7 separate regions of the Homo sapiens genome follow, and all the other regions are linked to region 3. The links come from fine-mapping of genetic effects on gene expression. A gene starts in region 3. Each other region holds a variant in brackets. All regions are shown on one strand. Distances are from middle to middle. Region 1 has its middle 20 kb from the start of MIR661. Region 2 has its middle 12 kb from the start of ZNF707. Region 3 holds the start of EPPK1 (epiplakin 1). Region 4 holds the start of PUF60 (poly(U) binding splicing factor 60). Region 5 has its middle 12 kb from the start of NRBP2. Region 6 overlaps SCRIB (scribble planar cell polarity protein). Region 7 has its middle 25 kb from the start of EPPK1.

The links.
Region 1: its variant is fine-mapped to the expression of EPPK1 in whole blood (TOPMed, PIP 0.96).
Region 2: its variant is fine-mapped to the expression of EPPK1 in whole blood (INTERVAL, PIP above 0.99). The same link has a PIP of 0.9 or more in iPS cells.
Region 4: its variant is fine-mapped to the expression of EPPK1 in whole blood (INTERVAL, PIP above 0.99).
Region 5: its variant is fine-mapped to the expression of EPPK1 in whole blood (TOPMed, PIP above 0.99).
Region 6: its variant is fine-mapped to the expression of EPPK1 in whole blood (INTERVAL, PIP above 0.99).
Region 7: its variant is fine-mapped to the expression of EPPK1 in whole blood (TOPMed, PIP above 0.99).

Annotation. Positions count from the first base shown.
Region 1 is chr8:143,963,565-143,967,638 of GRCh38, reverse strand. It overlaps a transcript of PLEC not described here. Among named protein-coding and RNA genes, the nearest start is that of MIR661, 20 kb to the right of the region's middle. RefSeq lists enhancers at 512-1,288, 1,289-2,066, 2,067-2,844. The variant C/T (reference allele first, on the strand shown) is at 1,727.
Region 2 is chr8:143,670,247-143,674,320 of GRCh38, reverse strand. No RefSeq gene overlaps it. Among named protein-coding and RNA genes, the nearest start is that of ZNF707, 12 kb to the left of the region's middle. The variant G/C (reference allele first, on the strand shown) is at 1,908.
Region 3 is chr8:143,876,788-143,880,861 of GRCh38, reverse strand. EPPK1 (epiplakin 1) reads left to right here and starts at 2,395. Exons shown (of 2, transcript NM_031308.4): 1 at 2,395-2,424. RefSeq lists an enhancer at 1,043-1,685 and a silencer at 2,252-2,341.
Region 4 is chr8:143,826,477-143,830,544 of GRCh38, reverse strand. It overlaps PUF60 (poly(U) binding splicing factor 60), which reads left to right and starts at 1,230. Exons shown (of 12, transcript NM_078480.3): 1 at 1,230-1,265. The coding sequence starts at 1,242. It overlaps LOC107986985 (a long non-coding RNA gene), which reads right to left and starts at 1,265. Exons shown (of 3, transcript XR_001746138.2): 1 at 1,141-1,265; 2 at 507-699. It also overlaps a transcript of NRBP2 not described here. RefSeq lists enhancers at 1-1,138, 459-1,158 and a silencer at 943-1,512. The variant C/T (reference allele first, on the strand shown) is at 2,187.
Region 5 is chr8:143,850,783-143,854,856 of GRCh38, reverse strand. No RefSeq gene overlaps it. Among named protein-coding and RNA genes, the nearest start is that of NRBP2, 12 kb to the right of the region's middle. The variant G/C (reference allele first, on the strand shown) is at 1,903.
Region 6 is chr8:143,807,575-143,811,574 of GRCh38, reverse strand. It overlaps SCRIB (scribble planar cell polarity protein), which reads left to right. Exons shown (of 37, transcript NM_182706.5): 10 at 230-429; 11 at 503-669; 12 at 759-889; 13 at 971-1,096; 14 at 1,857-2,024; 15 at 2,550-2,966; 16 at 3,961-4,000. Among named protein-coding and RNA genes, the nearest start is that of MIR937, 3.5 kb to the left of the region's middle. The variant G/A (reference allele first, on the strand shown) is at 1,977.
Region 7 is chr8:143,901,003-143,905,076 of GRCh38, reverse strand. No RefSeq gene overlaps it. Among named protein-coding and RNA genes, the nearest start is that of EPPK1, 25 kb to the right of the region's middle. RefSeq lists an enhancer at 1,669-2,239 and silencers at 2,496-2,545, 2,282-2,576. The variant C/T (reference allele first, on the strand shown) is at 2,151.

The DNA of each region.
Region 1 (4,074 bases), 87 kb before region 3:
ACTACACCTTTTTACATCAGGGACTTGAGCATCTGTGGATTCTGGTATCCATGGGGAGTCCAGAACCCATCTCCCGCTGATACCGAGGGACACTTGTATTCGGCGTAAACTTCGAAGTTGCCTGTGGGCAGCACCAGCTCACGGAACAGAACTTTTCAGCTCCTGGAAAGTTCCTGCTGAGTCCCCACTGGGCACACCATGGATGGGTCTCACACCACGCATCTATTTTTGTTTAATTCTGTCTGTTTCTTTTTTTTTTTTTTTTTTTTTTTTTTTGAGATGGAGTCTCGCTCTGTTGCCCAGGCTGGAATGCAGTGGCGCGATCTCGGCTCACTGCAACCTCCGCCTCCCGGGTTCAAGCCATTCTCCTGCCTCAGGCTCCCGAGTAGCTGGGACTACAGGCGCCCGCCACCATGCCCAGCTAATTTTTTGTATTTTTAGTAGAGACGGGGTTTCACCGTGTTAGCCAGGACAGTCTCGATCTCCTGACCTCGTGATCTGCCCACCTCGGCCTCCCAAAGTGCTGGGATTACAGGCGTGAGCCACCGCGCCTGGCCTAATTCTGTCTGTGGTTTCTTTAGCCATATCAATTTTTAACACTCACCAGTCTTTTATGATTTCTGGATTTTATGCTATGCTTAAAATGGCCTTCTTTTAGAAAAACATCTGCTGAGAGTTGCTTCCAGCACTGCTGCATTTTTTTAAACATCTCTGTCGTTAATCTTTGTGGAATTTGCTTGGGGCTGAGGTCGAGATGTTCAAGGAGGCTCGATGTCATGCTTGGTGTCACGCTCATAGGGTCTGGCCGTGGGCTTGTGGGTTACAGGGATGATTGTAAACATCTCCCCTTCCACCAATCCGGCTTCCTGACGCAGGGGCTGTGTATTGCTTCACTTCTGTGCCCCCGAGCCGAGCCCTGCCCTGTCCTGTGGCAGAATCCAGCTTCCTGACGCGGGGACTATGTGTTGCTTCACTTTTGTACCCCCCCAGCCGAGCCCCGCCCTGTCCTGTGGCAGGTGTGGCTTGAAACAAGCGTTGGGTGGGAGGGATAGGTGGACTTGGAGCTGGCTGGACCCCTGCAAGATCCTGGCCTGGTGCCTCCCAAGGAGCGGCTGAGGAGTCCCCCGTGGTGGCTGTGGAGGTAGAGAGCAGCCTGGGGTGGAGAGGATGTGCCTGCGGCAGAGAGGGCGGAAGAGCCAGCGCTTAGCCTTGGGTGCATAAAATCAGAGATGCCTGTGAGATAGGTATGCGTGTGCAGACACTGAGGTGCAGGAAATGCTGGGCTGAGGTGGGGAGGCCAGGCTGGGAGGCCATCACTAGGGCAGGCCTCGGGCCAGAGCTCTGAGCCTGGGGTCCTCCAGAGCTTAGGTGCCTATGAGAAGAGGCAGCCGGGAAGCAGAGCAGTGGGCAGCTGTGCAGCCATGGGGGCCTGTTGGGTCTGCGAAGGAGGAAGGGGCGTGAGGAAGCAGGGCCACGTTGGGAGCAGGGTGAGGCCTGGATGGTGCTGGGACCAGGTGATGAGGGGTGTTGGGACCTCAGCGGGACTGCTTGGGGTGTCGTCGGATTGGAGGTGCCAGGGGGCATGTGGGAAGTGCTCAGGAGGCCCTGCTGGTGCCAGGCTATGGTGGGTCCAGCAGGGTGGCAGGGAGGGAGAACCCTCTCCAGGACAGAGCGGTGACATGGAGGCTAGGCCGCAGCAGGTCACAGCCTCAGCTGGATGCTGGCC[C/T]GAGTTCCCTGGGGAAGGAGTTCCCTGGGCCTTGGCCTGAGGGACCTGCATGGTCACAGGGGGCATGGGCATCACCTGGCCCAGGGTGAGTACTGAGTGGTCGCTCACATTTACCCAGCCACACATCATCAGTGGCCAGTCCAGACTGCTGCTCACCACTGAGGGCCCTGGAGATTTTCCCAGGGTTGGGCTGTTGGGAGGGTGTGGGCAGTGGTGCCCTGTGGCCTCAGTTTCCCCAGTGAGGCCCAAGAGGAGCTGGCAGCAGAGGGGCCAGGGGCCAGGTACCTCAAGAAGGGACTGGAGGAGGCTGGGAAGGGCGATGCTAGTGGGACCAGGTGCCCAGATCTCCCACCGCTGGGGTCATGGGTGATGCCCACAGACCCACAGTGGGTAGGGAGATGCGGGGCTGGGAGAGCAGGGGCCGTGGGTCATGAGGTCAGGGACCCAAAATGGGGCATGGGCCGGGTCATCTGTAGGCCCAGTGGAAGGGGAGTTGGGAACACGCGTTCAGACGGTGGAAGGAGGGTGCCAGCTGGGAAGACAGGATCCTGTAGGACTTGGGACATCAGCCTGTGGGGCCTGCTCTCCAGGATTTGGGTCCTGGTTAGCTGCAGAAGAGTCCTCCCAGCTGGTGGTCAGCTCTTGGCAGGACTGTTGCTGCTTCTTCCTGGAGGCAGAGGAGACCCAGGACCAGGAATGGGATGGGGATCACTTTGTGTCCCTGTGTGGCTCCAGGAGTAGCGGCAGACCCAGGGCCAGTGCTGCAGGAAAGGAAGGCCCCAGGACGGCATCAGGGTGGCTGGTGTGAGTCTGGGTGCTCTTGGGCAGGCTGGTGTGTCAGGTGGGCTGGGGCCAAGTGGGACGGTGAGGGTGGGGAAGGCCATCCACAGGGGCACACCAGGGTGGGCGGGGGGGTGGGGGTTGGTTGGGGGAGTGGGGCTGGTCAGGGCTGGAAGTGTGGGTCTGCAGGAGCAGAAGGAGGTAGCTGCAGTAAAGGTCTCTGGTTGTGGCTTTTATGATTTTTATTCTGCTCTGTTTTTCAAATGAATGTGTCTTTTGACCTTTTGAAAGTGCATCTCTTTCTCTTCTTTCTTGCTAAACGAGTGGCTACCTGGGAAGCTAACAGAGCAGGCACAGGATAGGCCTAAGAGACACAGCTGGACGCCACTGTCATGACTGCCACAAGAATGCATGGTTGTTTACAGAATACAGATACCCCCAGAGAATGTGCCCTGTTTTAGGTTCCTGTGGCTGCTGTCACACGTACCCACAAACTGGGTGGCCTTAAACAACAGAAATGTATTCTCTTACGGTTCTGGAGGCCACATGTCCAAAATCAAGATGTTGACAGGGCCACGCTCCTTCGGAGGCTCCAGGGCGGACTCTGTTCCTGGCCTCTCCAGCTCCTGGTGGCCATCGGTGCCTGGGCTCGTGGCCGCATCACTCCAGTGTCGGCCTCCATCCTCCCGTGGCCCTCTCCCCTGTGGCTTCTCTTCCATCTCTTGTAAGACACTTGGCATTGGTTCTAGGCCCCCTACTGGGTAATCTAGGATGATCTCATCTCAAGATCCTTGTGTTAATTACACCTGCAAAGACCCTTTTTCCAAATAAGATACCAATTATGGGTTCCAGGGAATTGTTCATAGACATATCTTTTGGGGACCTCCATTCAACCCACTACAGTCTGTCCTCTGGTCCCTCAAAACTTACATCTGCCCCACTTCCAAAATAAATGTTTCTTATGCCAACATGCCCCAAAGTCTCAACCTATTGTAGCATCAGCTCTAAGTCTAAAATTCCATCCGCTTAGCCAGGCACAGTGGCTCACGCCTGTAATCCCAGCACTTTGGGAGGCCTGTGGGTGGATCACCTGAGATCAGGAGACCAGCCTGGCCAACATGGTGAAGCCTTGTCTCTACTAAAAATACAAAAATCAGCCAGTCATGGTAGTACACACCAATAATCCCAGCTACTCAGGTGTATGAGGCACGAGACTTGCTTGAACCCGAGAGGCAGAGGTTTCAGTGGGCCGAGACTGCACCAATGCACTCCAGCCTGGGTGACAGAGCAAGACTCCATCTCAAAAAAAAAAAAAAAAAAAAATTAGCCAGGTGTGGTGGCACATGGCTGTAGTCCCAGCTGCTCAGGAGGTGGAGGTAGGAGGATTGCTTAACCCTGGAGGCTGAACCCAGGTGACAGAATGAGACCCCATCTTGAAAAAAACAAGAACAACATTTAATCAGCTCAGAAGTCCCAAATCTGATCATCGAAGTTGTGTCTAAATCAGGTGTTGGTGAGGCTCTGGGTAGGATCCAGATGGGGGCAAAATTTTTCTCCATCTTTTTACT
Region 2 (4,074 bases), 210 kb after region 3:
AAACCTGTCTCCAAAGTCCGAGGAAGCTGAGAGGTCAAAGAAAAAGGCTAACAAACCCAGTTTCTTAGAAAGAAACACTTAACAGGGACTTAGAAAAAGAAGCCATGTCTGTCTTGGCAGCGGCAAGAGGAGATACTGGATCCCACCATTGCCCCCGCCCAGGGCTTGTGTACCACGGGGAGGGTTGGGAGGGAAGTGCAGGACAATGGGCGGCATCAGGGCCGTCTGACCCTGCGGCAGGGTTTATAGCAAGTGCCTGCCCTTACACAAGGAACAACAGATCACCTGGAAACGTCGGAGGCCTTCCCTGGACGGGTTAGTCGAAAGCCCACACAATAGTCACCATCCAGGCTGGAGCGGCTTTGGCCTCCACAAGGAGTTCCTTCGATATTTTGGATATGAGTCCCTCATCGGACACGTGATTTGCAGATATTCTCCCGTTCTGTGGGGAAGGGGCAGCTTTTCACTCTTTTAGGAGTGTCCTTTGATGAACAAAAGGCTTTAATTTTCACGAAGCCATTTGGCTGTTTGTTGTTGTTGCCTGTACCTTTGGTGTCCAAGGAATCATTGCCAAACCCAGTGTGTGTCAAAAGCTTCTGCTCCCAGTTTCTAACAAGAGTTTACTGTTTCAGGTCTTGCATCCAGATCTTTGATCCATTTTTACTTTTTATTTTACTTTATTTACTTATTTTTTTGAGACAGTCTTGCTCTGTTGCCCAGGCTGGAGTGCAGTGGCGTGATCTCGGCTCACTGCAACCTCTGCCTCCCGGGTTTAAGGGATTCTCCCACCTCGGTCTCCCAAGTAGCTGGGATTTCAGGTGTGCACCACCACACCTGGCTAATTTTTTTTTGTATTTTTAGTAGAGACAGGGTTTCACCATGTTGGCCAGGCTGGTCTCGAACTCCCGACCTCAGGTGATCCACTCTCCTCAGCCTCCCAAAGTGCTGGGATTACAGGTACAAGCGGTGCAAGCCACGGTGCCCAGCATGATCCATTTCTAGTTAATTTTTGTATGTGGTACTGACGAGGGTCCAACTTCATTCTCTTGCATGTATCACACTTTCCCAGCAACAGCCACTGTAACCTCTACCTCGTGGGCTGAAGCCATCCTCCCGCCTGAGCCCACCACGTAGCTGGGCCTGCAGGAGTGCATCACCACACCTGGCTAACTTTTCAAAATTTTTTGTAGAGACAGGTCTCAATATGGTGCCCAGGCTGATCTGAAATTCCTGACCTCAAGCAATCCTCCAACCTTGGCCTCCCCAAGTGCTGGGATTACAGGCATGAGCCATGGTGCACCCTGGCCCCACCAGGAGATTGTATATCCATGGGTACTGGTGACACTGGGCCTCAATAGAACAATTCCATATATACTGTATATGATTCCATTCACAGGACATTCTTGAAAAGATGGAATTACAGAAATGGGCCAGGCACTGTGGCTCATGCCTGTAATCCCAGCACTTTGGGAGGCTAAGCGAGGTAGGCGGATCACCTGAGGTCAGGAGTTCCAGACCAGCCTGGCCAACATGGTGAAACCTCGTCTCTACTAAGAATACAAAAATTAGCCAGGCATGGTGCATGCCTGTAATCCCAGCTACTTGGGAGGCTTGGGAAAATCTCTTGAACCTGAAAGGTGGAGGTTGCAGTGAGCTAAGATCGCGCCACTGCACTCCAGCCTGGGCAACAGAACAAGACTGTCAAAAAAAAAGAAAGAAAAGAAAAAGAAAGAAAGAGAGAAAGAGAGAGGGGAGGGAAGGAAGGAAGGAAGGGAGGAAGGAAGGAGAAAAAAAGAAAAGAAAAGGAAAGGACAAGAAAAGAAAAAAGAATTACAGAAATGGACAGAACAGATGAATGGTTGCCAGCCCTGAAGGAGGGTTGGAGGGAGGGAGTGGGTGTGGCTGTG[G/C]AAGGGTGAGGACCATATCCTGACTCTGTGAACATCAATACCCCAGCTGTGTGCACTGCAGGGTTCCAGGTGCTACCACTGAGGGAGGTAAAGGGTGCCCAGCATCTCTCTGTAAAACACCTTACAGCTGCATGCAAATCTAAAATTATCACAAAAAGCTTAATTAAAAATAAATAAACGTGTTCCTGCCTAGCTGCCTGGTCTAATTAAATTAGGGTGGGTGCATGTGGGACCTGGCTGCCGCAAGTGACGCCAGTCCATAACCGGGGCTGACACCATTGCCTCTGGGGTCCCCACCAGGTCCCCCGCCCTGCGCAAGGCACAGGTTACCTTTACTGCTAAGGTTCTAACTATGTGAACCCCTTCTAAAGGGCGAGCCAGGGAGAGAGGCCCCAGAGGGCCGGCACTCTCCCGAAACCAGCTAGGAGAGGATGCGGACACCACACAGAAGGCCCATCGCACCCCTTTGGTAAACCGTAAGTCTCATAATCCCAGCAGTTCAGGAGGCCGAGGTGGGTGGATCACCTGAGGTCAGGAGTTCAAGACCACCCTGGCCAACATGGTGAAATCCTGTCTCTACTAAAAATACAAAAATTCGTCGGGCATGGTGGCGTGCACCTGTAATCACAGCTACTCAGGAGGCTGAGGCAGGAGAATCGCTTCAACCCAGGAGGCAGAGGTTGCAGTGAGCCGAGATCTCACCACTGCACTCCAGCCTGAGTGACAAGAGTGAAACTCTGTCTCAAAAAAAAAAAAACCCTTAACTAATGGGTACAAAAAAATTAGAAAGAATAAGACCTAGTATTTGATAGCACAACAGGGTGACTATATTCAATAATAATTTAATTGTACATTTTAAAGTAACAGAGTATAATCGGATTGTTTGTAACGCAAAGGATAAATGCTTGAGGGGATGGATACCCCACTATCCATGATGTGACTATTACACTTTGCACGCCTGTATCAAAACGTATACCCCATGGGAGGCTGAGGCAGGTGGATCACTTGAGGCCCGGAGTTCGAGACCAGCCTGGCCAACATGATGAAACCCCGTCTGTACTAAAAATGCAAAAATTAGCCAAGTGTGGCGGTGCTCGTCTGTAGTCCCAGCTACTCGGGGGCTGAGGCAGGAGAATCACTTGAACCTGAGAGGCGGAGCTTGCAGTGGACTGAAATCACGCCACTGCACTCCGGCCTGGGTGACAGAGTGAGACTCTGTCTCAAAAAAAAAAAAAAAAGAAACAAAAACATGTACCCCATAAATACGTACGCCTACTATGTGCCCACAAAAATTCAAAACAACGCAAAACAAAACCTCTTAACACCAAATCCTAAAACTCTTAGTCTTCATATTTGATTTCTTTTTTTGAGGCAAGGGCTTGCTCTGTTGCCCAGGCTGGGGTGCAGCAGCCCGACACAGCTCACTGCAGCCTAGACTTCCTGTTGTCCAGGCTGGTATCAAACTCCTAGACTCAAGCAATCATCCCACCTCAGCCTTCTGAAGTGCTGGGATTATAGATGTGAACCACTCCAACCCCATATTTGATTTTTGTACAGCAACAGTTCCCAGATATAAAAACAGGCTAACCATGATGGCTCACAGCTTTAATACTAGTGCTTTAGGAGACTGAGGCAGGAGGATCATTTGAAGCCAGGAGTTAGTTTGACACTTGCCTGGTCAACATAGTGAGACTTCATTTCTACAAGAAATTTTTTTAAAATTAGCCAGGTGTGGCCAGGCGCAGTGGCTCACTCCTGTAATCCCAGCGCTTTGGGAGGCTGAGGCAGGTGGATCACCTGAGGACAGGAGTTCAAGACCAGCCTGGCCAATATGGTGAAACCCTGTCTCTACTAAAAATAAAAAATTAGCTGGGCGTGGTGGCAGGCGCCTGTAGTCCCAGCTACTCGGGAAACTGAGACAGGAGAATCTCTTGAACACGGGAGGCAGAGGTTGCAGTAAGCAAAGATTGTACCACTGCATTCCAGCCTGGGAGGTTGCAGTCAGCTGAGATCACACCACTGCACTCCAGCCTTGGCAACAGAGTGAGACTCCATCTAAAAAAAAAAAAACACAAACAAACGAAAAAAAGAAAAACAATTAGCCAGGTATAGCATTCCTGTAGTCCTAGCTCTTCAGGAGTGATATGGTTTGGGTCTGTGTCCCCAC
Region 3 (4,074 bases):
AGGTCAGCCTGCTGCTCAGCTCTGTCCCACCCGCTCCCGCCGGGCCCTCCATCCTGCCTGCATCTGCCCTGTCTCCTCTCTGGGCCATGTGCCGTGGAGGGGACACCCTGCTCCCAGATGCTTTATGGAGCAATGGCGGGCACTCCCCTTCGAGCTGGGCCATGCCAGGCTCCAAGGGACCAATGGGGATCCTGGCCAAAGGCTCCAACCAGCACGGTGACTCCATGGAGCAGCCCAGGGGCAGCGTGGGCACTGGTCTTGGGGCTCTGGGACCTCCCTCCTTGGACCAGGTCTTCTGAGAGCCTCCCTGACCTGCAGGGGGAAGCTAGGTGCCAGTGCCAGGAGGAGGTGGGTAGAGCCGTGGGCAGTACTGGGCATGGGAGCCCTCTCGCTCACCTCCTGACACCCTCCCTGATGCCCTTCCTTGCTGTGTAGGTGGTATAGGCCCAGGCCTGGGGGCTGGAGGAGTGGCCTGTGGCTCCGGGGACTGCTGGGCTGAAGCACTGGACTGGAGCCCCTGGGGAGGTGGTGGCTCCCAGAAGCCCTGACTGGGAGTGGCCCAGGGACCTGGGGAGTAGGGCAGGCACCCAAGTCTGCCCCCAGAGGTGTCCCCAGAGGTCACTGGGCTGGGGGCCACCACAGGGCAGGGGATCTGGAGTCACAGGAAGACAAAGCCGAGGGAGAGGAGCCAGGGGACAGATGCCAGTGGGTGCAGCAGAGCAGGGCCAGCTCCATGCCACCTGCCTATACCAGGGGGGTGACGGGCAGAAATGGGTGCAGCGGAGCAGGGCCAGCTCCGTGCCACCTGCCTATACTGGAGGGGTGACGGGCAGAAATGGGTGCAGCGGAGCAGGGCCAGCTCTGTGCCACCTGCCTATACCGGAGGGGTGAGGAGCAGACAGGCATGTGGCCCGTCCCTGGGCACACAAGAAGGCTTGGTCTGGCCAGCCTAACACCCCCTTCTTGCAGCGAGGGGCTGGCATACACCCAGGTTTTGTGGCCTGGCAGGGGCGCTGCCTGCAATGGCTCACCGCAGGAAGAAGTGGCTCTGGGGTGTGCTCCAGGCCACAGGCCATAGCCAGCACCACCATGCCTCCCAGCAAGACCACACAGACAGTGTCCAGGCATCCGGTGAGCAGGGCTGGGGATGGATGCGGTTGGCCTGGCAGTGCCTTGGGGAAATGCGGGTTCCACCAGAGCTCCTCTGGGGTCAGGGCCCCGCAGTCGGCAGCAGCCATGCTGTGCGGCCAGTGTGGCAGGTGTGGACAGGGTCCAGGCAGCCTGGGTGAGCAGGTGTGAGTGTGGACCTGGTGGGTGGGTGAGAGCAGAGCCAGGGCAGTGGTCCCAAGCACCCTAACCCCTGAAGGCCTAACCTGTCCCTCCTGCACCTGCGTGGGCGCCTGCAATTACCCTCATGGTGTGCATTGGAGGTGGCTGGCTGGCTCTGGATGATTTTCTGGTCAAGAATGACTCAGGCAGAGGTGGGGGCTGGAGCTTGGGAGAAGGGGGCACTTGTGGGGGTGGGGAGCACCTGAGCCCTCAGGACCTCCAGGACTACGGGACAGAGGAGGAGGGGCCTTGGGGACAGAGGAGGAGGGGCTTTGGGCCCTGTACTTCCGTGGCCCTGCCCACCTGGGATATCGGGGCAGCCAAGGGGAGGGCCCTCCAGAAGATCCATGGAAGGTTCCCGTGCCAGGCTGAGGCTGCCCCCAGGCCAGCCCCCGAGGCTGTGAGCCTCCATGCCCAGTGTCTCTGGCATGCCCCAGCCTTGGAAGGTGGGTGCCAGGATGGGCTTCAGAGAGGGGACCAGGTACTCCCAGGGTGACAGGGAACATTCTCTGTGCCCAGGTGGAGGAGCCAGACCGGGGGGTGAGGCCTGGCACTGCTCCAGGCAGGACATCCCAGCTCTTACAACGTCATGGGGGCAGGGGGGCCTGCCAAGGAGAGCCTTGAAGACCCCTGGACCCAGCAGACACACGACGTGAAGCAGCGTCCCCAGGAAGCTGAGCAGACAAGGTGGGGTCGGGGCTGGAGGCAGGGACACCAGCCCGCACCGCATTAGTGGCTTGTGGGGATAGAAACCGCCGCTCTGGCCGGTCCGCGTTTCACTCCAAACTCCTTTCCCAAAAAAAAAAAGCTGTTCTGAAGGGCACAGGACGCCTCCGCGCCCGCCCTGCGTTCCTTCGCGGTGACTCCCTGCTGGGGACGAGGGGAGGGTCCCGGCTGCCCAGCCGCCGCCCCTTGCCCGGGGTGCAAGCGCCAGGCCCGGGCCGCGCGGGGTTTCCGGCACCTGCCCGCCCCGCCCCGCCCCGCGTCGGGGCCCCGACCTGGGCGCCGCCCTAGACGGGGGCGGGGCCTGTGGGGCTTGAAATGCGGGCGGAGCGGGCGCGCGGAGACACTGCGGACCGAGCGGCGAGCGGGCAGGTGCGGCGGGTGCGGCGGGTGCGGCGGGTGCGGCGGGTGCGGGCAGGTGCGGCGGGTGCGGGCAGGTGCGGCGGGTGCGGGTGCGGGCTCGGGGCCGGGCGGGGCGGCGGCCGCCGAAGGAAACCGGATCCCCGCTGGAGCCGCACGCCGAGGCCAGGGTAGGGGCGCGGCGGCCAGCGGGGTCTTGGGCTCTGGCCGGGCAGGTTTCCCGCCCTGGGCAATTTGAGCTCCGAGTCCGAAGTGGCGCCCCTGAGTCCCGGGCGCCGGTGAAGAGGAGGCGCCGGCCCCGAGCCCTCACGGGAGAGGCGGCCAGGGGCGGGGGTCTCGCAGGCCCAGCGGTTTTCCCTGCAGCGAGGACCGCCCGGGGCACGCTCTGCAGGGTGGGGAACGCCCAGGCCAGGAGGCAGCTAGGCCGACAAATTGAGAGGGGTGACTCCTGGCAACATTGCCGGGAGGGAGGCGTCACGGATCCGGGGAAGCTGCCTGCTGTTGGGTGAGCGGTCCCAGGGGTGGCCACTCCGGGTCAGGTAAGCGGTCACACGGTCGCCTGGAGACCCGTGGGAGGCAGAGGCAGGAAGGGCCCTGTTCATCACTTGGGCCCAGGGCTCTGCTTCCCTGCCCTGGGCCCCCGCTGCACTGTGCCAAGCTTGTTATTGGGGCCACTGATCTCTGATCATGGTGCAGGTTGCAGGTGGGTGGGGTCTTCCCACAAGGGCACACAGCCGGGCAGAAGCTAAGGCTGCTGCCTCCTGTGTGGGCCCAGGCAGCTGCCAGGGTCTGTCCTGACCTGACTCAGGCAGGCGGCTGCAGCCTCCCCAACCTTTGTCCCAGGCTGCGGTGGGGGCCTGCCGGGCAGTCTGGTGACAGACAGTGACCTCACCCAAGAGATGCAGACCCACCCTCCTCAGGAACGGCCCTCCACCACTTGGGGCCTGGGGGCCACCTGAAGTGGGGAATCCACAGGAGGGGCCCTTTGTGCCTCAGGCTCCGGGGAAATCTGCTCGGCCTCCTCCCCACCCCATCACCCTAACCCTGACCCCGTGCTCTCCTAGGCAGCAGCCACCTCCTCCAGATGCCCCCACACTCGAAGCTGCACCCCCTGCCCCCCCTCGCTCCGGACCCTCTGTCCAGCTGCCCTCCCAGGCCCCACATGGAGTCAAGACACCCACTCCCGGGCCTTCCTCCTGCCAAGCCTGGGAAGGGGCAGGGCCCAGGGAAGGGGCAGGGCCCAGAGGGGTTCATACCAGGCCCAAGGTCAGGAAGAGATAGGGAGTGGTGCAGCCAGCCACAGGCCGCATCTCACGCATGGTGCGGGGCATGCACTGGCAGGCACACTCACACACGCAGGGCAAGCCTGCCCCCGACTCCCTGCTCCCAAGCGCCCTGTCTCCAGCCTTCCTCCCTGGATCTCCTCTTTGTTTGGGGAACTTGAGCCACTTGCCTGAGCTTACGAGGCCCGCTTAGCACGCGGCCTGTCTGGGCTGGCGGCCTGTGCGCAGGTCAGGGGCCCGCCCAAGGTGCTGTCCCCACCCTCACTGGCCCTGCCCCGCCCTCGCTGGCCCTGCCCCACCCTGGCCCGCACTGCCCCTCCCCCTTGCTGGGAAATCAGGTGCTCCTCTCATTTCCTCACCGCCATCCCTGGCCGGATGT
Region 4 (4,068 bases), 50 kb after region 3:
TCTGAGAAGCCTGATGGCATGCGGGTGGTCAGACCCAGCCCAGGGGTGGAGGCAGGGGTAGGACCCAGAGTCTCACTTACTCCCAGGCTTTCAGACAGGGCCTTGCTTGAGCAGGGCCTCAGAGCTCCTCTCCTGGAGCTCACGTCTCAGACACTGCAGTGCCTGCCAGCCCCGGTGGGTAGGGACAGAGGTCTGGGGTTTCCTTTCTGTAGCTGTGCTTTCACCCACGACCCTCAGACACTGGCCTCCATAGCCAAGTGGGCTGGAGTAGCTCTCGCTGTCCACCTTTCTTAAGCTCTGCAATATCCCAGCTCTTTGCCCTTGCAGGGTTTGTCTTTATAAAACCCCTTTCCTATAATTTTGGAAGGTTTCAGGAGGGAGGCGGGGAATATTCTGCCCTATTTAAGTAGAAGTGTCTGTATTAAATTCTAAATGTTCCCAGGGTTGAAAGGAGGCCTGCCCGGGATGCCTTGTGGCCTTAGGCAGCTGAAGGTGCCTGAGCTTACAGATGTGGCTTCTTCGGATGACCGAGTTGGGGTCTCGGGACTGGGTGCAGCAGATGGCAAATGTCCAGGACAGGCAGCTTTCCCAGCAGTACTGACAGACACCTTGGGCCATGAAAGCCAGTTCAGGGACTAACGGGGCCTGCGGGCTGCGGGTCTAGCGACTGATGTCAGCCAACCTAGGGTCATCGGTTCCCTGGAAGGAGAAAAAGCTGCCAATTGAACGGGGCCTCCCGGTCCCAGGGATGTCGCGACGCGGGGACGACGCATCTCACGACGTCAGCCTGAAACACGCGGGCCTTTCATCACCCGAGACTCCTCCAGCCCAGGAGGGCCCCGCTCTTTCGCCTGCCTCCTGGGGGAGAGCCTCTGGACGACGCACGCGACAGCGTTTTCTCCAAAAAAGGCAGAGAAGAGAAGCGTAGCAGTGGCCGCAAGGGCGACGGGCGGCGAAGGGTACTACGCACGCCCGCGTCGGCCACGCGGAGAGATACGCCCGACTCGAGTCCCGCGGCGCACGCCCCTAGACGCCCGAGGTGCGCGGGCCACGCCCCTCGCCCGGCCAAGAGCACGCCCCTTCCGTCGCCCCTCCCGGGGGCGTTTACCGTTCCTCCCCGCCCCGGAAGCGCGTTCTTACCTCCTTCCTCGCGAGAGTTCCGTGCACCGGCACCCAGATCGCGCGAGACAGCGGAAGGAGCAAGAGTGGGAGGCGCGCGCGGAGGCCGCGACGGACGCAAGATGGCGACGGCGACCATAGCTCTCGTAAGTGAGCCCCCCCATGAGCGCGGGCGGCCCTCGGCTTGCGGGGCCGGGTCGTCGACCCAGCCTGGGCGCGGAGGGCCTCCCAAGAACGCGGCGGTCTTCCCAGGTCCCGCGCGGACTCCCTCGTGTCCCCGGGTCGCGTGAGGCGGGGGCGGGGCGGGCGCGCGCCGGCGGCCGGCTCGCGGCCTCAGCTTCCGGCCTGCGGACCCCAGCTTCCGGCGGGGCGGGGCGGGGGCCTGGGCGCGGCGTGTGGCCCTTGCGGGCGAGCCTGGCGGGGTTGCGTTCCTGTCCGCTAGGTCCGGCAAGCGGGGGTCGTCGTCCTCCCTTTGCCGACGGGGGTGTGCGCCGTGGTCACGACGGAAGCGGGGTTCTGGGGGTGACGCGTGGGCCTTCGGGTTGATGGGATCAGAAGGGGACGGGACCTGTAGAAAGGGGCCTGCAGCTCAGAGCATGGGGCGGCCTTGGCTCACTACGCCTGCAGCTGTGAATTCGTTCTCCGGTGCTGGAGAGGGATCTGGTTATCTCCATTCTCTTGTCTCCACGTGGAAAGGAAGGACGTGCGCTCTCATCCTACGTGTTTTGAGAAATCGCATTGTCCCCAGCTCTGCGGGAGGATCTGGGGACGCAGTGGGGAACCAGACAGGCAGTTGGAGGTCTAGTGCGCACCAGAAGCCAGTTCCCACCCAGGGTGCCATTTGCTGGGCGCCCTAGGGAGCTGCGTGGGCATCCAGAGGAGTGAGTCGCCCCCTGCTCTGCTCAGTGCCCACTTCCCCGGGCAGGGCAGGCGTTATTAACGTAGAGGGAGAACACCCATGCACACAACACATGCACGATGAAGTCTGGTCTTTCCTTCTCACCACTTAGCTTATAGGACCTAATCCCCTTTTGGACCTTTCTCAGCCGCAGTTTACCCCTGTATTA[C/T]TTGTCACCCTTCCCCCAGCCCACACCCAGCGGGATGGGATAAGGTCTGTTTGAGAAGACAGCTTGGGCAAATGGCTGAAGGCTGGACTGGCAGGACCAGGGAGTGTCCTTAGACTGCCATTGCCAGGCCCCCAGCGGGCGGGCTGGTCCCATGTCCCACTGAGGCAGAAACCAGTTACTAGGGGGAGAGAGGCATTTACACAAGATACCCAGCTTGCGAGGGCAGCCCAGTGTGTGATTCACAGGACTGGCTAACTCCACTCTTTCTACTATGTCCTTTCTCTTGAAGCCACAGGAGTAAGTGACCTTTGAGGGGCACTCCAGAGAGAAAGGATGTAAGGGTTGAGGACCTGGTGACTGTCTTCAGGCAGCAGTCAGAGAGTTGATGGTGAAGGAGGAGGAGGCTCAGAGACAAGGACTGGACATGGGAAGGTGGAGGAGGAGAGTGGATGCCTGACTCCCCTAGCACCCGCAGAACAGCGCCCTGTGCTCATGAGGGTTAAATGGGGGCTCAGGTCTGCTGTGGCGTGGTGCCAGATAGGTGGTGTCATTGTTGAGTTGGACGTGGGCCATAACTGACCCCACGAACGGGTTGTCTGTTGGGGTGTTTGTTGCCATCCAAATTCTGTTGGGTTTAATACGTGTTTTTTTATCGTCAGGTTTCAGGCTTGCATCCGGCTCCAGGAGTGAGCTGTAGCCTGTGGTCTAACCCATTCCTCTTTTAATCATTGGGATGGAAAGGCTTCTAGAAGGGTTATCTGTTCCCACCGTCCTGGTTGGGCACAGTGATGAGAGCCTGTCCCCTGTCTCATGCTGCTTCAGCTCTCATGGGAGGTTGAATGGAGCAGCTGAACTTGGCTGACAGTGGCCTGGTGGGGAAGGAAGCCAGAAGATGCAGAAGGGCCTCCCCTCCCATGGGCATGCCTTCTGCCTGGTGGCTGCAGAATGAGGCCGGCTGCCTCTTTGCAGCAAGGGTAGGTCTTCTGGATGCATCTTTTCACTTTGACGCATGGCTCCGTTCTCTTCACTGACAGCCAGACCAGCTCTCATTTGGGGTCATCACCCTTGGGGTTCCAGTTCCTTTCTTCTGTAGGCCCCAGCCTGCAATGTCACCTCATAGAGAGGCCCCCGGCTGCCATGGCCTGGCATAGCTCATAGCCACTCCTTTCTTATCCTGTGCTTTCTTCGTAGTGCTGGTAAACCACAGAAGTCATCTTTGATTTTGGCATTCTTTGCTGGCAGCTGACACCAGGCTCCTGAGAGAGACGTCTTTCTCTCTTGTCTCGTGTCTGCGGCCTCTGCAGCGCTCACTGTGGAGCCTGGGCACGCAGTAAGCAGTGTTCATTGTGTGAAGGGAACTGACAGATAGAAGGCAGTGTCCTGCAGCCAGCTCTGCCCTGGGTATCTGACACTGGATGTTGTTAATACTGATGAGTGCTGGAACCTGTGGCTTGCTTTGCTGCTTTCCATGTGCAGGGACTGCAGGTTGTGGGGTTGGGGGCGTGTTGGGATTTCACTGAATCTTCACAGTAGCCCTAGGAGACAGGCCGTCCCCATTCCCAGCTGAGGAGCCTGAAGCCTTGAGACCTTGGGACCTTCAGTCATTCGCTCCACATTATTTTTTTTTTCTTTTTGTGTGTGAGACGGAGTTTTGCTTTATCGCCCAGGCTAGAGTGCAGTGGGGTGATCCCGGCTCACTGCAACCTCTGCCTCCTGGGTTCAGGCAATTCATGGTAGCACCTCAGCCTCCCAAGTAGCTGGGATTACAGGTGCTTGCCACCATGCCCGGCTAATTTTTGTATTTTTAGTAGAGATGGGGTTTCACCATGTTGGCCAGGCTGGTCTCCAACTCCTGACCTCAAGCAATCCACCTGCCTCGGCC
Region 5 (4,074 bases), 26 kb after region 3:
AAAATTAGCTGGGCGTGATGTTGCTTATAATCACGGGAGGATGAGGTGGGAGAATCACTCGAACCCAAGAAGTGGAGGTTGCAGTGAGCCAAGATCACACCATTGCACTCCAGCCTGAGCAACAGAGTGAGTGTCCACCTTGGCTCGTGGGTGGGAACTCATGAGCGCCCACTCCAAGCTGTGTCCTCTCAAAAAAAGTAAATAAAGTCTGCTGGTGAGGAATTTTACACATATAAATACATAAAATATTTGATTTGAGTTTATCCCATCTGGAGTTGGCCAAACTTTTTGATTTTCATAAGTTTATATCTTTCACTAAATTAGAGAACTTTTCTGCCATTATTTCTTCAAAATAAATGTTTTATGTACTAATATCTTTCCATTCCCCTTCTGGAACTTCAAATACAAAAGTGATAGATGTTTTGATATTGTTTCACAGCTCTCTGAAGCTTTGTTCATTTTTTTAAAAAATCTTTTCTCCTGTTTTTCAGATTAGATAATTTCTATTGATCTCTTTGTAAGTTTACTGACTCCTTCCTCTGTAATCCCCCTTTTGCTATTGAGACACTCAGTAAGCCTTTTTTTTTTTTTTACTTTGAGACAGAGTCTCACTCTGTTGCCCAGGTTGGAGTGCAGTGGGGCGTGATCTCAGCTCACTGCGGAGTCCGCCTCCTGGGTTCAAGTGATTCTCATGCCTCAGCCTCCTGAATAGCTGGGACTACAGCTGTGTGCCACCATGCCTGGCTAATTTTTGTACTTTTAGTAGAGACAGGGTTTCTCCATGTTGCCCAGGCTGGTCTCAAACGCCTAGACTCAAGCGATCTGCCCGCCTCGGCCTGCCAAAGTGCTGGGGTTACAGGCATGAGCCACTGTGCCTGGCCAGCTTTTTTACTTCAGGTGATTTTTTACTTCAGGTAATATGTTTTTCACTTCTACCATTTCCACCTGCTGAGAACGTCTGTCTTTTCACTCATTCTTGGGGTGTCCACTCTTGCCGCGGGGAGCATCGGGCTGGAATTGCTGCTGTGAAATCTTTTCCTGGTCCCTCCAGCATCTGAGTCCTGGGGTTCTGCCAGCAACTGTCTGTCTTTTCCCCTGAGACCGGATCCAATTTCCAGTCCTTGGCATGTTGGGTAATTTGGGGTTGTATCCTGGATGTTTTAAATAATCAGATGCGAGGCTCTGAGCCCTGCGAGAACGCGCTTGAGAATGTTGGCATTTTCACTTTGGCGGGCACTCATCCCGGCTGGGTCAGGCCACAAGCCGTATCCCAGCCGCTGTGTGCAGTGGATCCGTGTTGGCTCAATTCTCAAGGCTGTTGCTGTGCGGCCTGTTCCCCACACGTGCTGCTCAGCTCAGGCAAGCACCGAGCTTGTGTTGTTTCATGCTCAGCGTGGAGGCCCCTCCTCCAGGTCGCTGCTCTGTGGGGTTCCCATACACTCAGGCTCCTAGGAGGAGTCCATTTAGAAAGCCAGGGTTTTTCTCAGAGTCTTAGTTCCTTGTGCTGTCATCCATTTCACACGACTTGGGCCCTGCTCGGGGCAACACAGCAAGAGAAAAGACAGGGAAAATAAGAGAGGGACCTTGCACACACACGCTCTGGACCACAGAGCCCTGTGCCCAGCTCCTCTGTCAATACAGGTGGAATCTCGTGCAGGATCGCAGGGGTCTGTGATGCCACCAAAGAGCAGGCCGGGACAGGGTTAGGAGAGAAAGGAGAGGGAAGTGGGGGTTTCTCCTACGCACTCTTATTTGCAGAGGGAAAGGCGGGTTTGTATTGGGGTTGTCGGTCTTTGCACCCACGGCACAGTTGTGAGACACCCCCATCCTCAGATCAAAGCCGCACATACAGCTGGGGAAAAACAAAACAAAACAAAACAAAAACAGTAAACCTCCATGCCA[G/C]TTGTTGGTAAGTTTTGAGTTTCCTCCCCAGCCAGCTGCTACTGTTAGCGTTTCACAGTCCTCCAGGAGTCGCTTTTTATATTCTGTCCAAAGGGAGAGAGGAGCTGTAGTGGCTGTGCTCCATCTCTGCCAGCCCAGAAGTTTCCAGAAGTGCTCTTCTGATTTTACAGGTGAAGAACCGGAGTCCTGGGGGTGTAACAAGCCCAGGTCCTCAAGGCAAGGGTGGGAACTCACGAGCGCCCAACTCCAAGCTGTGTCCTCGCCCCGCAAGCTTGTGCTGGTCACTGCTGCCCTGTGCCCCCCGGATAGAAACACTGCTGGAGGAGAAGCCTTTCTCAGAGCCCTGGGGAAGGGGATGGTCAGGCCACCTACACTCCTGGCCCTGCTCCACTGGCTGCACTGGAGTGGCATCTGGATGGACAGCAGCCGGCTGGAGACTGGGAGGAGGCCTGGGTGCAGGAGGCTGGGGCGCTGGGCAGCATGCGCCGCGGGGCAGCAGGACGCAGGGGCCTCCCAGCGGGACTCGCACGTGGCACTCTCTGGGGCAGGTGGTGACGGGAGGCAGACACACTCCAGGGGAGTCCCTCAGTCACCATGCTCCAGGTACTTGCGCCTCACGTTTAGAACCAGGGTAGATTTGGAGACTCCTGGGATCTTTTGACAAAATTTCTCTCCAATCTCTAAGTACAAAGGATGCTCCTACAAAGGGCCAGATGGCAAGTCCTGGGATGGAACCCCTGCCCTTGGTGCCACCACTGCTCTTTCATAACTGTGGGCTCTTCCGAAAGTGACTTCATGGCTCAGTGCCTCAGTTTCCCTTTTTGTAAAATGGTCATCATGGCTGGGCGCGGTGGCTCAGGCCTGTAATCCCAGCACTTTGGGGGGCCGAGGCGGGTGGATCATGAGGTCAGGAGTTCGAGACCAACCTGACCAACATGGTGAATCCCTGTCTCTACTAAAAATACAAAAATTAGCTGAGTGTGGTAGGTGCCTGTAATCCCAGCTACTCAGGAGGCTGAGGCAGGAGAATCACTTGAACCCGGTAGGCGGAGCTTGCAGTGAGCTGAGATCCCGCCACTGCACTCCAGACTGGGCGACAGAGTCTCTGTCTCAAAAAAAAGAAAAAAGAAAAAAAAAGGTCATCATAATAACACTTAACTCACTCAGCAGTTGTGAGTACAAATAAAATTCAAATCCTGGAAGTGTTTGAAAAACATCCACAAGAATGACAGAAAGGAGAAGCACACTGTTGTTTTTGTTAGTTTTAACATTCGTGTGGCTTTTTTCTTCCTATCCGAAAAAGAGATTTTCTCCCCGATCAGCCCAAGTCATCCTTCTAGTGGCAAGAAAATTAGGAATGTTATGGAAAGAATCCCAAAAGAAAAAACGAGTGAATATTCAGATTCACATTTTTCTTTTTTCTTTTTTTTTGTTTTTTTCTTTTTTGAGATGGGGTCTCGCTCTGTCACGCAGGTTGGAGTGCAGTGGTACAACAGCTCACTACAGCCTCGAACTCCTGGGCTCAAGCGATCCTTCCACCTTAGCCTCCCAAGTAGCTGGGACTACAGGTGTGTGCCACCATGCCCAGCTGATTTTTTTTTAAGGACTAGAAAGTCAAAGACAAATGCCCAGCAGATTTTGTAGAGCTGGGGTTTCGCCATGTTGCCTAGGCTGGTCTTGAACTCCTGAGCTCAAGCAATCCACCTGCCTCAGCCTCCCAAAGTGCTGGAATTACAGACATGAGCCGGCACGTCTGGCCTATATTCTGATTTATATTCAAAGTAGACTTTGCAGCAAGACAATAGGCTTGGAAGACAGGTTAGTGACGCAGTTCATGATGGGGTTCACAAAGGGGCTGGTGCTGAGGTTCGAGATGGCATTTGTGATAGGATTGGTGATGGGTTCATGATGGGGTTCGTGATGGGGGTGGTGATGGGTTACCCTGGGGACAGTGAGAAGGAAAGGCAGAGACAGAGGAGCTCAGATGCCTGGCTTGTCTTCCCTTGACTCCCTCCAGTGCTGGTGGGGGTTGTTTCAAAAACATCTGGACAGGCCAGGCATGGTGGCTCACATCTGCAATCGCAGCACTTTGGGAGGCCGAGGCGGGTAGATCACTTGAGCTCAGGAGTTTGAGACCAGCCTGACTGACATCCAACATGGTGAAACCCTGTC
Region 6 (4,000 bases), 69 kb after region 3:
GGTGGTGGGGACTGAAGGCTGAGGGCAGTGGGCAGAGCTTGGGGAGCAGAGGGCACGAAGTGGGGTGGAGACAGCTTCTGTGGTCAGGTCCTTGTCCCGGTCTCCAGGGGCTGTGAGGGACCCTGGCTGGAGCTGGCCTGGGGTGTCTGTGCCCTCCTGCCAGGGGCTGTCATCTCCTTCCCACCCCCAGCAAGCCCCTAGCGTCCTCTGACCTCCTCTTCTTGGCCAGGCCCTGCCCCGCTCCCTGGGAAAGCTGACTAAGCTGACCAACCTCAACGTGGACCGGAACCACCTCGAGGCGCTGCCGCCCGAGATCGGGGGCTGTGTGGCACTCAGCGTCCTCTCCTTGAGGGACAACCGCCTGGCCGTCCTGCCACCAGAGCTGGCCCACACGACAGAGCTGCACGTGCTGGACGTGGCGGGGAACCGGTGAGTGCCAGCCTTGCCCTGCGGGCCTAACCGTGGCCCCAACGCCTGCTGACTGTGCCCGCCCGGCCCGCAGCCTGCAGAGTCTGCCGTTCGCGCTCACCCACCTCAATCTCAAGGCCCTGTGGCTGGCAGAGAACCAGGCGCAGCCCATGCTCCGGTTCCAGACGGAGGATGATGCCCGGACCGGCGAGAAGGTGCTCACCTGCTACTTGCTGCCCCAGCAGCCCCCACCCAGCCTCGGTAGGTTGTTGGCAACCGGTGCTTAGCGCGGGGTGGCTCTCAGGCAGGGTTTGGGGACTAGCCTGGGTCCTGACGCTCACCTGCTGCAGAGGATGCTGGGCAGCAGGGGAGCCTCTCGGAGACCTGGAGCGATGCCCCGCCGAGCCGCGTCAGCGTCATCCAGTTCCTGGAGGCCCCCATAGGTGATGAGGACGCTGAGGAAGCTGCAGCTGAGAAGCGGGTATGAGGGTGAGGATCTGGGGGGCGAACCTCTGCCTGACCCCTGCCCTGTGGCTGCTGCTCATCCTTGTCCCTACAACAGGGCCTACAGCGCCGGGCCACACCTCACCCCAGCGAGCTCAAGGTGATGAAGAGGAGCATCGAGGGGCGGCGGAGCGAGGCCTGCCCTTGCCAGCCAGACTCTGGGTCGCCCTTGCCTGCAGAGGAGGTGGGCATGGAGCCACGGCAACCTGGCGGGCCGCTGACCCGGGAGCTGTGGTGGTCCGGTCCATCCTGGGAGTGGGGCTGTGAGGGCCAGGGCAGCACAGAGAAGGAGCAGGAGATGAGGCTGGTGACAGGTTTCAGGGACATGGAGCTGCAGGGCCAGCTGGGTGAAGGGTGCCAGGGTGGACGTGTGGGTCGTGCAGGGCGGGTCTGTGGGGCTGGAGTATGGGGAGAACCAGTGGTGGGTGTGCCTGGGAGCACAGGGAATGGGGTTTGGTTGTGGGGTAGGGTCTCTGGTGGAACTGCCGTGGGTGTCATCGGCACCTGGGAAGGGGTTTGGGACTGGGACAGAGCAGGCCTGACTGTTCTCACTCAGAGCTGTGACATGCGTGCTGTGGGTTTTTGGGTGCAGCAGAACCAGTGATCTGGGCTGGGGTAGGGTGTGTGGGGCCGTGCATGGGAGGGGAGGAGGTTCATATCACGCTGGGATTTTCCTGGGAACTTGTGTGGTCCTTGTTTGTTTTAGGAAAGGCTTTCCTTGGGGCTGGGCTGTGGAACCGTGGCTTTGTCCACCCTAGGCTTTGGAGGCGTGTGGCTTCCTTGCAGGCTGGGACAGGGAGCAGCTGCGAGGGCGTGAGCCCGTTAACGGTGCCTGGTCGGGGCAGCGGGAAGCTCAGGGAAGGCCTGCCACGTGGGGGGCATCCCAGGTGGCCAGCCTGTGAGTCGGGAGCTCCGTCGAAGCCTGACCCCACTTCCCGCCGCAGGAGAAGCGGCTGAGTGCCGAGTCTGGCCTGAGTGAAGACTCTCGCCCATCTGCCAGCACAGTCTCTGAGGCTGAGCCCGAGGGCCCGTCGGCTGAGGCACAGGGTGGGAGCCAGCAGGAA[G/A]CCACGACTGCTGGCGGGGAGGAAGACGCCGAAGAGGACTACCAGGAGGTGTGGATTGGCAGGAAGGAGGCAGGAGGCTGGGCCTGCTGGGTGGGGGCTGCCTCCCCTGCGGGGCCTCAGCTGGGATCGGTTTTGGTGCAGGCAGTGCCTGGGCCCTGCTGATGCTTCGGGGAGCTGCCCTGTACAGAGTGGCTACGGGTGGTGCAGGGCCGTGCTGCTGGGGGTGCCCTGGAGAGCTGCCTCCCTAGGTGGGGTTAAGGTCTCCCCTGACGGCTGGGCTCACAGAGCCCACCCCCACCCTGGACTCTCTTCTGACCCCCGTGGGCTCCCTGGTGTGAGGCCTTGGCGCACCCCTTCGTTTCCACCTGGGGCGCTGCGTGTCTCCAGGATGAGCCCCTGGCCTTCAGCTTTTCTCAGGGCTGAGACACGCGCCCCTCACTGGGCAGTTAGTGCTGAGTCTTTGTGTGGCGGGGAGGCTTTCGGAGCCCGTCTGTGGCCACACTGTTTAGTAGGGTCTTCCTGTGGAAGCACAGCCACAGAGCTGGGGCCACCCTCACCCTTTTGTCCGCACAGCCCACGGTGCATTTCGCAGAGGACGCACTGCTGCCCGGGGATGACAGGGAGATCGAGGAGGGGCAGCCTGAGGCCCCCTGGACCCTGCCAGGCGGGAGGCAGCGGCTCATCCGCAAGGACACACCTCACTACAAAAAGCACTTCAAGATCTCCAAGCTGCCCCAGCCCGAGGCCGTTGTGGCTCTGCTGCAGGGCATGCAGCCTGATGGGGAGGGCCCTGTGGCTCCCGGGGGCTGGCACAATGGCCCCCACGCACCCTGGGCTCCTCGGGCCCAGAAGGAGGAGGAGGAGGAGGAAGAGGGTAGTCCTCAGGAGGAGGAGGAAGAGGAGGAGGAGGAAAACAGGGCTGAAGAGGAAGAGGCCAGCACTGAGGAGGAGGACAAGGAGGGGGCCGTGGTTTCTGCGCCCTCTGTCAAGGTTGGTGTCAGCCTCACCCCTGCCTGACCCAGATTCCCCTGGCCCTCCTGGGCACCCAGGGCTGCGGCAGGAGCAGGGCCGAGGCCTGACCCACTGGCCCCTGGCCACCCGGAGAAGGTGGTGGACACGTGTGCTCCACAGTCGGCATCACGGCCACTCTCACCAGACCCCAGGCCTGCCCTGGCATTGGTCTCAGTCCATGCTTGGACTCCAGGCCTGCCCTGGCGTTGGTCTCAGTCCATGCTTGGACCCCAGGCCTGCCCTGGCGTTGGTCTCAGTCCATGCTTGGACCCCAGGCCTGCCCTGGCGTTGGTCTCAGTGCCAGAGGCAGCTCTGCTGGCCAGTATTTGCCCGACCTGCTGGCGGGCACGGAGTTCACAGAAGTCAAGCATGGCTGCCCACTCTTTGTGGGTCTCCAGGGCCTGTCTACATGTGTCGTGGTCCCAGGGCAGGGTCTGTTCCTCTCCCAAGATCACTGGGCTCTCCTGGGATCCTCTCTTGTGTTGGGCACTGCAGGCCCGAGGCCCTGATGGCTCTTTTCTGCCTTGTCGGGCCCTCCTGAGGTGCCACACAGGCCTTCGGGGCACCAGTGTGTCCCTCCCTGGCCCTCAAGTCTCCTCTCCATGGGTCACAAAGGGTCTCACCTGCTCTCTGGGCAAACTCAGATTCCAGGGGGAGTCCCCGGGTCTCACTATCCCTGCCCTTGATGACACTCTGACCCTGAGTGTGGGCCAGTGGCATGATAGCTGAGGGGGCCCGGAGGGGCCACAGCAGGGACAGCCCGGTGGGACTCTGCTCAGCTCTGGAGCCCCGCTTGTCCCCAGGTGTGTGGTGTCACTCACGCCTCCAGGATGGAGGCGCCCGTGCCAGGGCAGTCGAGGGAGCTTGCTGTGGTCTCCTCTGTCCTTTCTGCTTGTGGCGGGGGCTGGGTGAGGCGGTGGTGGTGGTCTTGGCGGTGGCTAACCTGCATGCCTCACTGGTCCTGTCCTAACAGGGAGTGTCGTTTGACCAGGCCAATAACCTGCTGATAGAGC
Region 7 (4,074 bases), 24 kb before region 3:
AAAGTGCTGGGAATACAGGGATGAACCAGGGCATCCAGCCTGCCCACTTTTACTTACATGCAAATTAAGGGGCGGTTTATGCAGAAATTTCCAGGATGAGGGTGGCAACTTCTGGCTTGTCTGGTTGTTGCCATGGAAAGGGGCAGTAACTTCTGGGTGTTACCACGGAATGGTAAAATGACATGGCACACTGGTGGGCGTGTCTTACAGGGAGGTGCTTCCACCTCCCTGTAAGACACTTGTTTTAGCTAATCCTCACTTTGGTCCAGTGTCCAAACCCCACCTCCGGAGTTGAGTCCTGCCTCCTACCTCAGGAGGAAGGCTGCCCCAACTGCTGGGCCCTGGGAGAGGCCGTTCTTCAGTGCTGGGAATGCATTGAGCAGGGCTGCACGCCACAGACAGGAGTGGAGCCCTCCCACCCCAACACACACACAAGGCCACCCAGCAGTCTTGTGTCCTGGGCAGAGGGCTGATATGGGGAGGGGCAGCCCCCAGGCAGGAGACAGTGGAATTGTGATGGGGATTGCACTGAATTTGCAGGTCAGCTTGGGGAGTGATGCTGAGATGACTTTCCGTTCAATCATGTCCTCTTCATTTCCTTCAGTAATGTTTTCTAGTCTTAAATATACAAGTCTTGACTTTCTTTGGCTACGTTTATTCCTGAGTATTTTATTATTTGCAGTGCTATTGTGTGTGGAGCTGTTTGCTTAGTCTCATGTTTGGATTGCCTACTGCTAGCATGAAATACAACTGATGTTTGTATATTGTGGAGACAGCCCACCGAGCATCGCACCTGTCCTCCAGGGCCTCTCAGGACAGCCCAGCACGGTGGCTGGGCCTCGGGGGCAGACCAGCTTGCCCTCCCTACTGGATCATATGCAGGCAGGACCCGGGTCTCTGGGTCCCAAGCTCTCGCCCCCGGCCTGTTTGCCCACCAGGTCCCAGGGACAACGCTGTCAACAGGCTCCTCCTCCCTGGGCCTGGCATGGAAGGGCTTCTTGGTTCTGAGGCCTCAGCTGGTTCCAGCCGACCAACCCACAGCTCCCTGGCAGCCGCCACCCTGAACTGGAGTCTCGCCATAACCCTGGGCTGCGGGCCCTGCTGGGTGAGGAAGAGAATGCTTAGGTAGCTGCAGCTGCTGACCCGGAGGAGGAACCTCTCTCCTGGAGGCATTCATCCCACACTCTAAGGAAAGGGAATGGACCACTTGAGCCCAGGAGTTCGAGGCAAGGCAGGACGCCCTGAAGGGATGGGGCAGCTGTGATCTGTGGGAAGTGGCTTCCTGCTCTACCCGTCTCGGAACAGGAGGCTTTGCCGTCCTAGAAACGCGTTCGGAAGATGGGACACCTTCAGCTTACTCAACTCACCCGCTTAAATCCCTGAGTTAAAAAAAAAAATTAACTGATCGTCCTTAGGAGATCCCGGCAACAAGCTTACATTTTTAAAATTGATAAATAAAAGAAAAGAATCAAGCTCTTATTCTGTCTTTCCTATGCAGATGGGCCGCTGGGTAACCAAACAGCATGAGAGGGAGGTTTGTCATCGCGGAAGTATTCCAGCCAGTGAACAAAGAAGGCATAGCTGAGGGGATATCCACCTTCCGTGCCAGACAGCGCATGTCAGCCTCCCAGGGGATGCAAGCCTCAGCCCCGCAGACCTGCTGGAAACCTGGTCAGTTCCACCATGTCACATCCTGACACATTTCAGAGCCTTTTGGGGGCAGAGTCTTATCCCCCACCCTGGAGCCCTGTGCGTGTTTGCTGAGGGACTGCTGGCTTCAGCCCCCCGAGGAAGCCACACCCCTGGGGACCACAGCAAAGGGACCAAAAGCTAAGTGGGGCTAGAGCTGGGAAACGCTGGGGCCCTTCCTTCCCACTCTAGGGGGCAGCTGCCTGAGTCCCCGGCCTCCCCTTCCCTCCCCCTGCTCAGGAGTGGGGCTTCTCTTGGGCCTGGTCTGAGGATGCTAGACTGTGGGGTGGTGGAGACATGGGCCTGCCCTTGGCTTCAGGGCCTGGACTCCTGGCTGGGTCCCACTCTACCCACACTCCCTCCAGGTCTGCCAGGAAGATGAGGCACCACCTGCCGTCTCTGAGGACAGAGGCTGGATGGAGCCCATTCACGAAGACCAGGCTGAGCAGCGTACGCTGGGC[C/T]GCACCCCATTCAGTCCTCTTCTGTCTTATGTTGTGATAGGTTCAGAGGCCAGGCCAGCACGAGCAGAGTGGCTTTGCAGCCCCCTGGGTGGTTGCAGGTGGGTGGTTGCAGGTGGGTGGTTGCAGGAGGCCACCCCTCAGGGGCGCTGCCAGGACATGGGCGGCCTTCACGTGGACAGTGGTTTTGTGCTTTCCACCAGCACAAGGTCCACGGCGGCGGCTGCTGCGGGCTCCCCAGCAGATGGCAGCAAAGCGCCTACCAGCCCCAGCGTCTCGTCCCGGCCACCTGTCTCACTCCTGCTTTCTGACTAAAGTGGGGACAGCAGGCTGTGTCCCATCTGGGAGGCGCCACCTCACCCCCTGGAGGGGAAACCAGCCCAGTAGGCAGGGGCGGGGGATGGGGGGTGCTAGCGTCATCTCAACAACCCATGCCCCGACACAAGATGCTGGCCCCCAAACTCCTCCTCCCCAGAGATTTCTCATCCCCAGGACGGCGGTTGCAGGCAGAAGGGTTTGGAAACATTAAACGTGAATTATTCCAATTGGTAAAAAACAAAACAAAACGAAACAACTAGATCCTGGTTACTTTATAATATATAATACTCAAAGGATTATAAATTTCTTCTTTTTTGTTGTTGTTGTTGAGACAGTTCTCGCTCTGTCACCAGGCTGGAGTGCAGGGGCACGATCTCGGCTCACTGCAACCTCCACCTCCCGGGTTCATGCCATTCTCCTGCCTCAGCCTCCCGAGTAGTTGGGACTACACACGCCTGCCACCACGCCCGGCTAATTTTGTTTTTGTATTTTTAGTAGAGACGGGGTTTCACCATGTTGGCCAGGATGGTCTCGATCTCCTGACCTCGTGATCCACCCGCTTCGGCCTCCCAAAGTGTTGGGATTACGGGCGTGAGCCACCGCGCCCTGCCAGGATTATAAATTTCATTTTTATTTCAGCCTCTCTGGGCATGGGAAGGATCAGCTGAGGAGTGAGGATGGCGGCGATTACCCACAGCCTTAGCGTGACCTGCTCATTTGCAGCACCAACCAATGAAAGTCAACAGAAAATGTGAAAAATGGCAGTCCATGCCATGAATACACGTCATTTGAAAAAAGCGTCCGCGGGTGCCACTGGCACTCACACACACGCCCTCCACTTAATGTCTCCACTTAATACCAAGAACCTTCAGTTGAGAATCTATTTTATTTTATTATTATTATTATTTTGAGATGGAACCTCACTTCATTGCCCAGGCTGGAGTGCAGTGGTGCGATCTCAGCTCACTGCAACCTCTGCCTCCTGGGTTCAAGCCATTCTCCTGCCTCAGCCTCCCCAGTAGCTGGGATTACAAGTGACCACCACCACATCCGGCTAATTTTTGTATTTTAGTAGAGATGGGATTTCACCATATTGGCCAGGCTGGTCTCAAACTCCTGACCTCAAGTGATCCACCCGCCTCAGCCTCCCAAAGTGCTCGGATTACAGGCATGAGCCACCATGCCCGGCCAATAATCTATTTTAAATGAGAAAAATGGCCAGGTGTGGTAGCTCACGCCTTAATCCAAGCACTTTGGGAGGTCAAGGTGGGAGTATCACTTGAGCCCAGGAGTTCGAGACTAGCCAGGGCAACATAGTGAGACCCCCATCTCTACAGAAAATACAAAAATTAGCCAGGCATGGTGGCACACTGCTATGGTCCCAGCTATTTGGGAGGCTGAGACGGGAGGATTGCTTGAGCTCTGGAGGTCGAGGCTCCCAGACTCATGGCAGTGAGTTGTGATCATACCACTGTATTCCAGCCTGGGCAACAGATGGAGACCCTGTCTCAAAAAACACAAAATTTTTTTTTTTTTTTTTTTGAGACGGAGTCTCGCTCACTCAGTGAGCTCACGATCTCCGCTCACTGCAAGCTCTGCCTCCCAGGTT